Regions from separate parts of the Homo sapiens genome. Here region 1 is linked to region 2. Evidence: fine-mapped expression QTL. A gene starts in region 2. The other region holds a variant in brackets. All regions are shown on one strand. Distances are between the middles of the regions.

The links. PIP is the estimated chance that this variant, and not a neighbour inherited with it, causes the effect.
Region 1: its variant is the best candidate, but not a certain one, in a credible set for the expression of ZNF182 in whole blood (TOPMed, PIP 0.60).

The regions. Positions count from the first base shown.
Region 1 is chrX:47,899,062-47,903,462 of GRCh38, reverse strand. The region is part of intron 4 of ZNF81 (zinc finger protein 81); the gene reads right to left. Among named protein-coding and RNA genes, the nearest start is that of ZNF81, 64 kb to the right of the region's middle. RefSeq lists an enhancer at 2,475-2,524. The variant C/T (reference allele first, on the strand shown) is at 2,416.
Region 2 is chrX:48,001,749-48,006,149 of GRCh38, reverse strand. ZNF182 (zinc finger protein 182) reads left to right here and starts at 2,161. Exons shown (of 6, transcript NM_001007088.2): 1 at 2,161-2,241; 2 at 2,448-2,642; 3 at 3,497-3,555. The coding sequence starts at 3,541. It also overlaps a transcript of SPACA5 not described here. RefSeq lists an enhancer at 2,236-2,545.

The DNA of each region.
Region 1 (4,401 bases), 100 kb after region 2:
AATTGTGAATGGGAGTTCACTCATGATTTGGCTCTCTGTTTGTCTGTTATTGGTGTATAAGAATGCTTGTGATTTTTGTACATTGATTTTGTATCTTGAGACTTTGCTGAAGTTGCTTATCAGCTTAAGGAGATTTTGGGCTGAGACAATGGGGTTTTCTAGATATACAATCATGTCATCTGCAAACAGGGACAATTTGACTTCCTCTTTTCCTAATTGAATACCCTTTATTTCCTTCTCCTGCCTAATTGCCCTGGCCAGAACTTCCAACACTATGTTGGATAGGAGTGGTGAGAGAGGGCATCCCTGTCTTGTGCCAGTTTTCAAAGGGAATGCTTCCAGTTTTTGCCCATTCAGTATGATATTGGCTGTGGGTTTGTCATAGATAGCTCTTATTATTTTGAGATACGTCCCATCAATACGTAATTTATTGAGAGTTCTTAGCCTTAAGGGTTGTTGAATTTTGTCAAAGGACTTTTCTGCATCTATTGAGATAATCATGTGGTTTTTGTCTTTGGTTCTGTTTATATGCTGGATTAAATTTATTGATTTGCGTTAATTTTTATATTTTTAGTAGAGATGGGGTTCACCACGTTGGCCAGGCTGGTCTCAAACTCCTGGCCTTAGGTGATCCACCCGCCTCGGCCTCCCAAAGTGCTGATTACAGGTGTGAGCCACTGCGCCCGGCCCCACAAGTTCTGATGTGTCGATTTTCACTATCACTTCACTCAATACATTTTCATTGTGATATCTTTTTTGACTTATGGGATATTTGGATGTGTGTTGCTTACTTTTCAAACATTTAGATATTTTTTAATTGTTTTTCTATTCAGAGTTTTAATTTAACAGTGGTTAGAGAACATACAGTCTATGACTTCAATCCTTTGAAATTTGATGCAAACAGCTTTATATCCCAAAATAGTCTATTCTGGTGAATGTGCCATGTATACTTGAAAAGAATGTGTATTCTGTAGTTGTTGGATGTAGTAACCTATGTATGTCGATTACATCATATTGGTTTATCATGTTCTAGTCTTCTACCTCTTTAGGGATTCTTTTGTGTGCTTGTTACAACAGTTAGAGAAATAGGTGTGTTAAAATCTCCAACTATGATTGTGCATTTTGTCTACTTCTCCTTTTAATACTGCCAGTGTTTACTATATATTTTGAGGCTATGTTATTAAGTACATAGAAAATTAGGTTTATATATATATATTCCTGTTGAATTGAAATTTTATCAACTTCAGAGAAAGAGAGTACATTGGCGAAGATACAAGACATTAAAGTGACAATACAGAAGTATTAATGAAAAAAACTTATGTCGAAATATTGACATCTTAGATGGAATACACGAACTCCTTGAAGGAACAAATTATTAAAACAAGAAGAAATAAAAAATCTGAATATTCCTATATTAAAGAAACTGAATTTGAAATTAAAGACAGTCCCACAAAGAAAACTTCAGATGACCCAGATGAGTTCACTGGTGAATTTTATCACATATTTAAGAAAAAGAAATTTAAAGTAATCTTATACAAAATCACAAGAGACGTGAACACTGAAAAATTCTAGCAAATATAGCAAGTTTACACAAACTCTTTCAGAAAACAGAGCAGGCATGAAATTTCCAAACTAATTTTATGAAGCTAGAATTAACATGATACCAAAATCAAAGATATTATAAGGGAACCCCCCCCCGCCCACAAAACTAAAGACCAATCTCTCTCAAAGACATGGAGATTAAGATCCTTACCAAATATTAGCGAATCAAATCAAGAAATACATAAAAAGATAATACACCATGATGAAGTAAGGTTTATCTCAGGAATGTAAGTTTAGTTTGACATCTAAAAATCAGTAAAAATTCACCATATTAGTAGGATAAAATGCACTTTTCAATAAATACATAAAAAGCATTTGGCATTTAGAAAATTCAACATCAATTCATGTTTAAGACTCTCATCAAACTAGGAATAGAAAGAAATTGCCACAAATTAATAAAGAGCATCTAAGAAAAATCACAGCTAATACACCTAATGGTGAAAGACTGAAAGTTTTTGCCTTCAGATTGGGAACAAGATAAAATAAAAATAAACAGCATATAGACCAAAAAGGAAATGACAGAAAGGCATGATAATGTTTGCAGAAAGTTTTATGGTATTTATTCACAAAAAGACCCACTAGAATTAATAAGCAAAATGTAGCAAAGTCTCGGAATACAAGGTCAATGTACAAGAATCAATGGTAAGAGTTCTACTTCCAGTATGGAGAAGTAAGCTTCTGAAAAAGACCCTTCTACAGATAGTAAATGTAATCTCTAGAAAAACAAACAAAAATAAAAAAACAAACAAAAATAAAAAAACAAAAGCAGGCAGATTTTGTAGGGGGGTCAAAAGTTAGAGGAAGTGACTAGCA[C/T]GTAGTGAGTTCCCCTTTTCTCGGGTTTCTGTTGAGAGTAGCTGCACTCCTAGCAGCAATGTGGAGCAGCTAAAATTCTCATAAAAGCTTGTAATCCTTTTGCGAGAGGAATCAGGGGAAGAAGGCCTGGGTACCCGGGGCCACTAGAGATTAAGGGGGCAACTCAAAAAGAAAGAATCAAAAAAAGCAAATTCCTAATTCTGTGTATAAAATCTGCCTAAGTCTCTGGCTGACCCCTCAACTTTGCATGGGTAGAGCAAAATTAAAGCAGGGCTGAAGTGCACCTGAGTTGCCACTCGCCTTAGGTGAGACAGCATTTCCAGTGTCAATCTAACCTAGTTAATTGCCTGCTGTGATAAGAACACTGACATTCTTCAGAACAATATAACAGAATACCATGTTACCATAAACATTGATAATGTTCAGGACGCAATCCAAATTACTCAAAATATGATGGAGCAGAAAAATGTTCTTTTGATCACTTTCCAGCATCTTCAGTAGCTAGTTTTAAAAATATGCTTTCCAGGGTTAACAATTTTTTATCTGTCTGGCAGGTTATTTCAATATAAACAATTCTATAATACTAGAACTTGAGTTAATTTTTGTATAGGATGTGAAGTATGGGTCAAAGTATGAATTTTTCCCCCAATACTGACATCCATTTGTTCCAGCACAATTTGAAAAGACTTTCATTTCTCCCTTCAAATTACATTGGCACCTTTGTCAAAAATCAGTTGTCTATATATTAATGGGTCTATTTTTAGTCTTTCCCTTCTGTTCCATTTATATATTAGTGTGTCTTTACACCAATAACATACTGTCCAGATTGCTATAGCTTTAAAGTAAATCTTAACATTTGGTAGTGTCAATCCTCCGTACTTTTTCTTCTTCCTCAAGACTGTGTTGGTCATTCTAGGTCTTTTGCATATCCATATAAATTTTTAAATCTCTTTGACAGTTTTAACCCCCCCAAATTACAAATAATTGAATGAACAAGTAGAAGACAAATTAGTAAGGCATTAGAAGATTTCAACAACATGGAACCAACCTGAGTTATAGATTATAGAACACTGTACCCATCAACAACTGAACATACATTCTTTGCAGGGACACACAAAACATTCCCCTAGGTAGACCATATGCTGAAATCATAAAGAGTATGCTCTCAGACCACAACAGGATTAAATTGGACAACATAGAGGAAATAGACAAAATTCCTTGAAAAGTACAACTTACTATGTCTGGCAAAAGATGAAACAAAAAATCTGAATAGCTCTACATCTATTTAAAATATTAAGTTTGTCATTAAATCCTTCCTGTCAAGAAAATTCTAGGTCCAAATGGCTTTCTTGGTTAATTCCATGAAACATTAAAAGAAATAATAATCTCACACAAAGTATTTCAGAAAATAGAGAAGGGAACACTTCATAACTCATTTTAGTAGCCAGTATAACCATAATATCAAAACATGACAAAGACATTGAAAAAAAAGAAAACCATGAACCAAATCACTCATGAAAAACGCAAACTTTTAAGTCAAATATCAGTAAGTAGAGTCCAACAATATATAATAAAGCTAATACGTCATAATCAACTAGTATTTATCTCAGAAATACAAGGTTAATTCAACATTTAAAAATCAATGAATTCACCATAATAACAGAACAAAAAATGCTGATATATATAATATCTCTCCAATAGATGCAGAAAAAGCATTTGACAAAATTCAACACTCAATCATGATTTAAAAAAAAAAACTATGAAACAAGCTAGGATTAGAAAGGAACTTACACAGCCTGTTAAAGGGCAGGTACAGAAAACCTACAGCTAATATCATAACTTAATGGTGAAAGACTGAAGTTTTTGCCCACAATATCAGAACCAAGACAAACATGCCCACACTCACCCCTTCCATTCAACACTGAACTGAAAGTCTTAGACAGTAAAATAATGAAAAGAAATTAAAACATGAGTTTGGAAAGGAAG
Region 2 (4,401 bases):
CATTCATAATTGAATGCATGCATAGTCATTCCCTCACTTTGGCCCACATCCACTCCACTCTGGTGTTCATTCACCTCCATTCCATTGCCCTTTGCCTCTCCTTGCTCTCATTTACTCCCAATTTGCCCTTCAGTCACCATTATTCATGCCCCTCACCCACCAGTCCCATGTATCTCCTGTTCACTGACACTCACATTGGCCAACACAGAAGCATCTGATGGATTGCTCAGGATTTGATCTGGCTGCACGCACCAACCCCACCACAAACACCAGTGGCTTCAAGAGGAGGGAAGCAGATTCCTCTTTTGGAGGCAGGTAATCCAGGGCTAGTGTGGTAGCTCCAAGGTCACCAGAGACCTGGCTCCTTCTGTGCTGTTGCTCTGTCAGCCTCACCTGCTGCTTCTGGTCCAAAATGACCGCTCACAATTGGCAAGGCTTTTGTGGTCTTGATAAAATGTATCATAAGAGCAATTGTAATGATGACTCGCCAGCCACGTGGGGGCTTCTCTCATTGTCTTTGGGTGGGAATGTCATATCATGCAGACTCTGTGGTGGGACCAGCCACCTGTCAGCTTCTCACTCTCCTTCACCTAGCCACCTGCTGCTTAGGTTACTGTATGAGGAGGTCACACCTGTAGGGAATGACGGTAGAGGATACCCAGGACAGAGAGTGGGAGTCCTCGCTCTGCAGCAGCAAAGTTAGCCTCACATAGCTTGTGCATGCACACTGTGGGCCCTCAGATAGTTTCTGAGGGGCTGTATCACTGGCTCCTCTGCCCCCCAACTCCCACCAACCCTAAAAGATTTCCTCCTTTGTGTAGGTGTGTGTGTACAAGGTGGTTGGAGATGACGTTTAGGTGCTAGAAGGGGCGACACTTGATGGGCCCTAAAGGACCAGCCCTTTCTATTTTCTACCTCCTAATGCATTGAGAGAGTGGATAAATTGTATACCCAGGAGGTGCTGATGTGTCAGGGAGCAACAGATGTGAGTTCCTTTTTTACTTTCTTTCTTTCTTTGTCTTGTCTACTGGGAAGCTCCATTCCTTTTGTTGTTGTTGTTGTTTGTTTGTTTTTTGTTTTTGAGATGGAGTCTCACTGTGTTGCCCAGGCTGGAGTGCAGTGGTGTGATCTTGGCTCACTGCAACCTCTGCCTCCCGGGTTCAAGCGATTCTCCTGCCTCAGCCTCCAGAGTAGCTGGGATCACAGGCGTGCTACCAAGCCCGGCTAATTTTTGGTGTTTTTAGTAGAGACGGGGTTTCACCATGTTGGCCAGGCTGGTCTTGAACTCCTGACCTCAGGTGATCCGCCTACCTTGGCGTCCCAAAGTGCTGAGATTACAGGCGCACGCCACCGTACCCAGCCCAATATATGTGTATTTTTAACGTTACTATATAATGCTAGATTGCTTCAGACTGGTCTTTACAGATCGGATCCTTCTTATGGTTTCCCATATGTCCAGAATGAAATATGAGCTCCCTGGCCAAGGAGGCCCTACAGCACCTGGCCCCAGCCTACACCCCCTACACTCCCAACACACTGACACTGTCTACTCATCCAGAAAAAGCAACCTGTTAGCCACCACTTAATATACCCCTTCACCCCCGGTGTGTGTGTCCCACATCGCCGTTTATTTTTCAGCTTGTTTGTCTGCATACCGACCCACCGTCCTTCAAACGCTACAACGTAAACTCCCAGTCCTGGCCACTGGATGAAGCCAGTGGCTTTTCCCTACCTCCTACTCTTTGTGCACGCAGAGCAATTTAGCCACGCATCCCGCCTTCCCGTTATTTTACACCTGCAACCCTGTTGCTGCCCTCCAAGTTCAAAGTGCGAAATTGCCGCCTGCTAGAATCTTTTCCTTAGTTGGGCACTTCCCCTCCCCGCCCTGCCGTAAGAAAATTGGTGTCTGAAGTCTTAGGAGTGCCTGCCTCTGCATAACTAAGTAAACAACCGCTTTGCGACGCAGCCCCAGCAGCAAAAGGACACGGTGGGCACGGCCATCTGGCCTGGAGCAGTGACGTCACCGGCAAGGCTACCTTCCCTCTGCGCCTGCGCTGCGGCCCCATGTTGACTATTGGCGGACGGGGTCTCAAAGGCGCCACTGAGCGTGCGCAGAACCGACCCCTGCAGCCCTTTAGGCTGCGGTGCCAAAGAGTCGGTCCCGAAGCGGAAGTGCTTGTTGGGGCCAGGCTTTGTAACGGTCTCCTGAGCAGCGAGCAGAAAATCTGTTATCGAGAGAGAGTGAGGTTGAGGGGGCAAGTGCTAGGGGTCGTGGGCTGAGTGATGGGGAGTTCTGTGGGATGAGTGAAGTGGGAGTTGGGGGTTGAGTGATGGGGGACCGAGAGGTCAGTGGACGAGGTTCTAGGGGCTCACTGGTGAACAAAGTTATGGGGGCTAAGCAGGATTAAATGGGGCTTATTAAACTTTGACTTTTACACGTTTTCCAGCACAGTGACCTGCCCCTAAAGGTTCATGCGCATCCCTCAGACCCCTCTTTAGACGCGCCCCGCTTCTCCCTCTGCCCTCTCCCCTTGCCCAAGCCCCGAGGTGGGGGCCTGGTGTGAATGCTCCGGCCGAAGTGAACCTGCACCCCCGCACCCGAAGGCCTCTTTCCGGCTTCTGGGCAAGGCGGCCCCGGTGAGGTGAGCAGAAGGAAGGAGAGGCACCTGCGAGGTCTCACCTGACCCCGGGCCTCGCCCAAGTTGGGGGCGTGGGAGGAGGGGTAGGTGCGGGGTCTGAGGGAGATGGGGGTAAAATGTAATTGGGATAATAGTTTTAGAGTGTAGTTTTTTTTGGCATTTAATAAATAACATTTGAATATATAGATTAATTCTGAAATAGAGAAAAAGAAAATCAACAGGAACTAATTCTTCCCCCACACATTTAAATGTCCGTTTTTAGACATTTTTGGTGTGTATAGGGGTATGCCTTTTAAACATTTAACATATAACTTTAAAATGGATTCCCGCAGTTTTAAAACCTACTTTGTAATTCACCTTAGGATTTTTTTGTACACCTTTTAAAAACGTTTAGTTGAGATACATATACCACAAAGTGCATAGATACTGTACAGTTCCATATAACGCTTTTAACAGCTTTGTAGCATTTTATCTTTTATATTTTGTTATTATTAATCCCTTATGGGTCATAGAGGATCGTTTAAGTTTGGCATTATTGAAATCAATGCTGAGACGTGGGTACGTGCAGAGAAATTATGATACATTATGATAAATTATTTCCTTAAGGAAAATACCTACAAATACACTTTATGGGTCAGTACACAATTTAATATATGTGTATATAAAACCTTTTGTGTTCAATGTTCACATGAAGAGTGAATAATACACAGATTGTTAAAATCACATGGTTGCCCAGACTCTTCCAGAGAGCAGTCTGATGGCCAGCTGATGTGAGGGGATTGCTAGGCAGCTAATTCTGGGCACTGAAAGTCTGATGGGGTCTCCTCATCTGCTGTACTCTTCTCCACTTGTTCCAGCTCGGCCGTCACACATCTCTGCTTTTTCCCAAGAAGAGCAGGAAATGGCCAAACCCCAGGTAAGTATGTTGTCTGTTTCTTCATTCCTCTATTTTACTGTGGATGTGACGAAATATGTGGAAATCCCTGCCATAAAATAGGAAAGTATTTGTAAATAAGGATTGGATCAGGCAAAATAAGAGACAACAGATCAAGGCCAAATTAGAATGTAGAGGTGTGCAGGACTCAGGGTGTAACAGATATTGATGTTGGGCTGTCAGTTTCTCTTTGAGCCTTCTGGTAGCCAAAGGGAAACATAACCAGTACCTTGGCTCACCTTACTCATCAGGAGAGAGCACACAGCCTTCATGGGAAGTCAAGGTTGCCTGGAATTGTGTTTAAAGGTATTTCTTTGCTGGGTCTTCATGTGGATAGTGCAGTTGCCCTCAACCACAGCCTGGTGACAAATGCTTTCCTGCAGATATGTGCTACAGCTTTCCTCAGTGAGCTGGAGACATCATGTCAAAATGTAACTTGGGAATGAAATCTCTTAGGGAACCTGCTTGTCTTTCCAATGATTTTCCTGAAGCAATTTCTTAGTCGGACTTTGAATTATCTTTTGTCCAAGAGACAAAATTTTTTCAGATACCTGCAGCCCACCATATTTTTTCTTTCACTTTAAACATTTTTATTTTTTAAATTAACATACAGTGAAATTGATTTTTGTTAGATTGGTGTAACTAATCTATAGGATAGATAATAGTTTCATCACCCCAAAAAAACTCCTTCATGCTACTCTGTTAATAGTCATGTCTTCCCCAACCTGTAACCTCAGGCAGCGGTAGGTCTGTTCTGTGTCACTGTAGTTTTGTCTTTTCAAGAATGTCATATAAGTGAGGTGTCATGTATTATGTAACCTTTTCTTT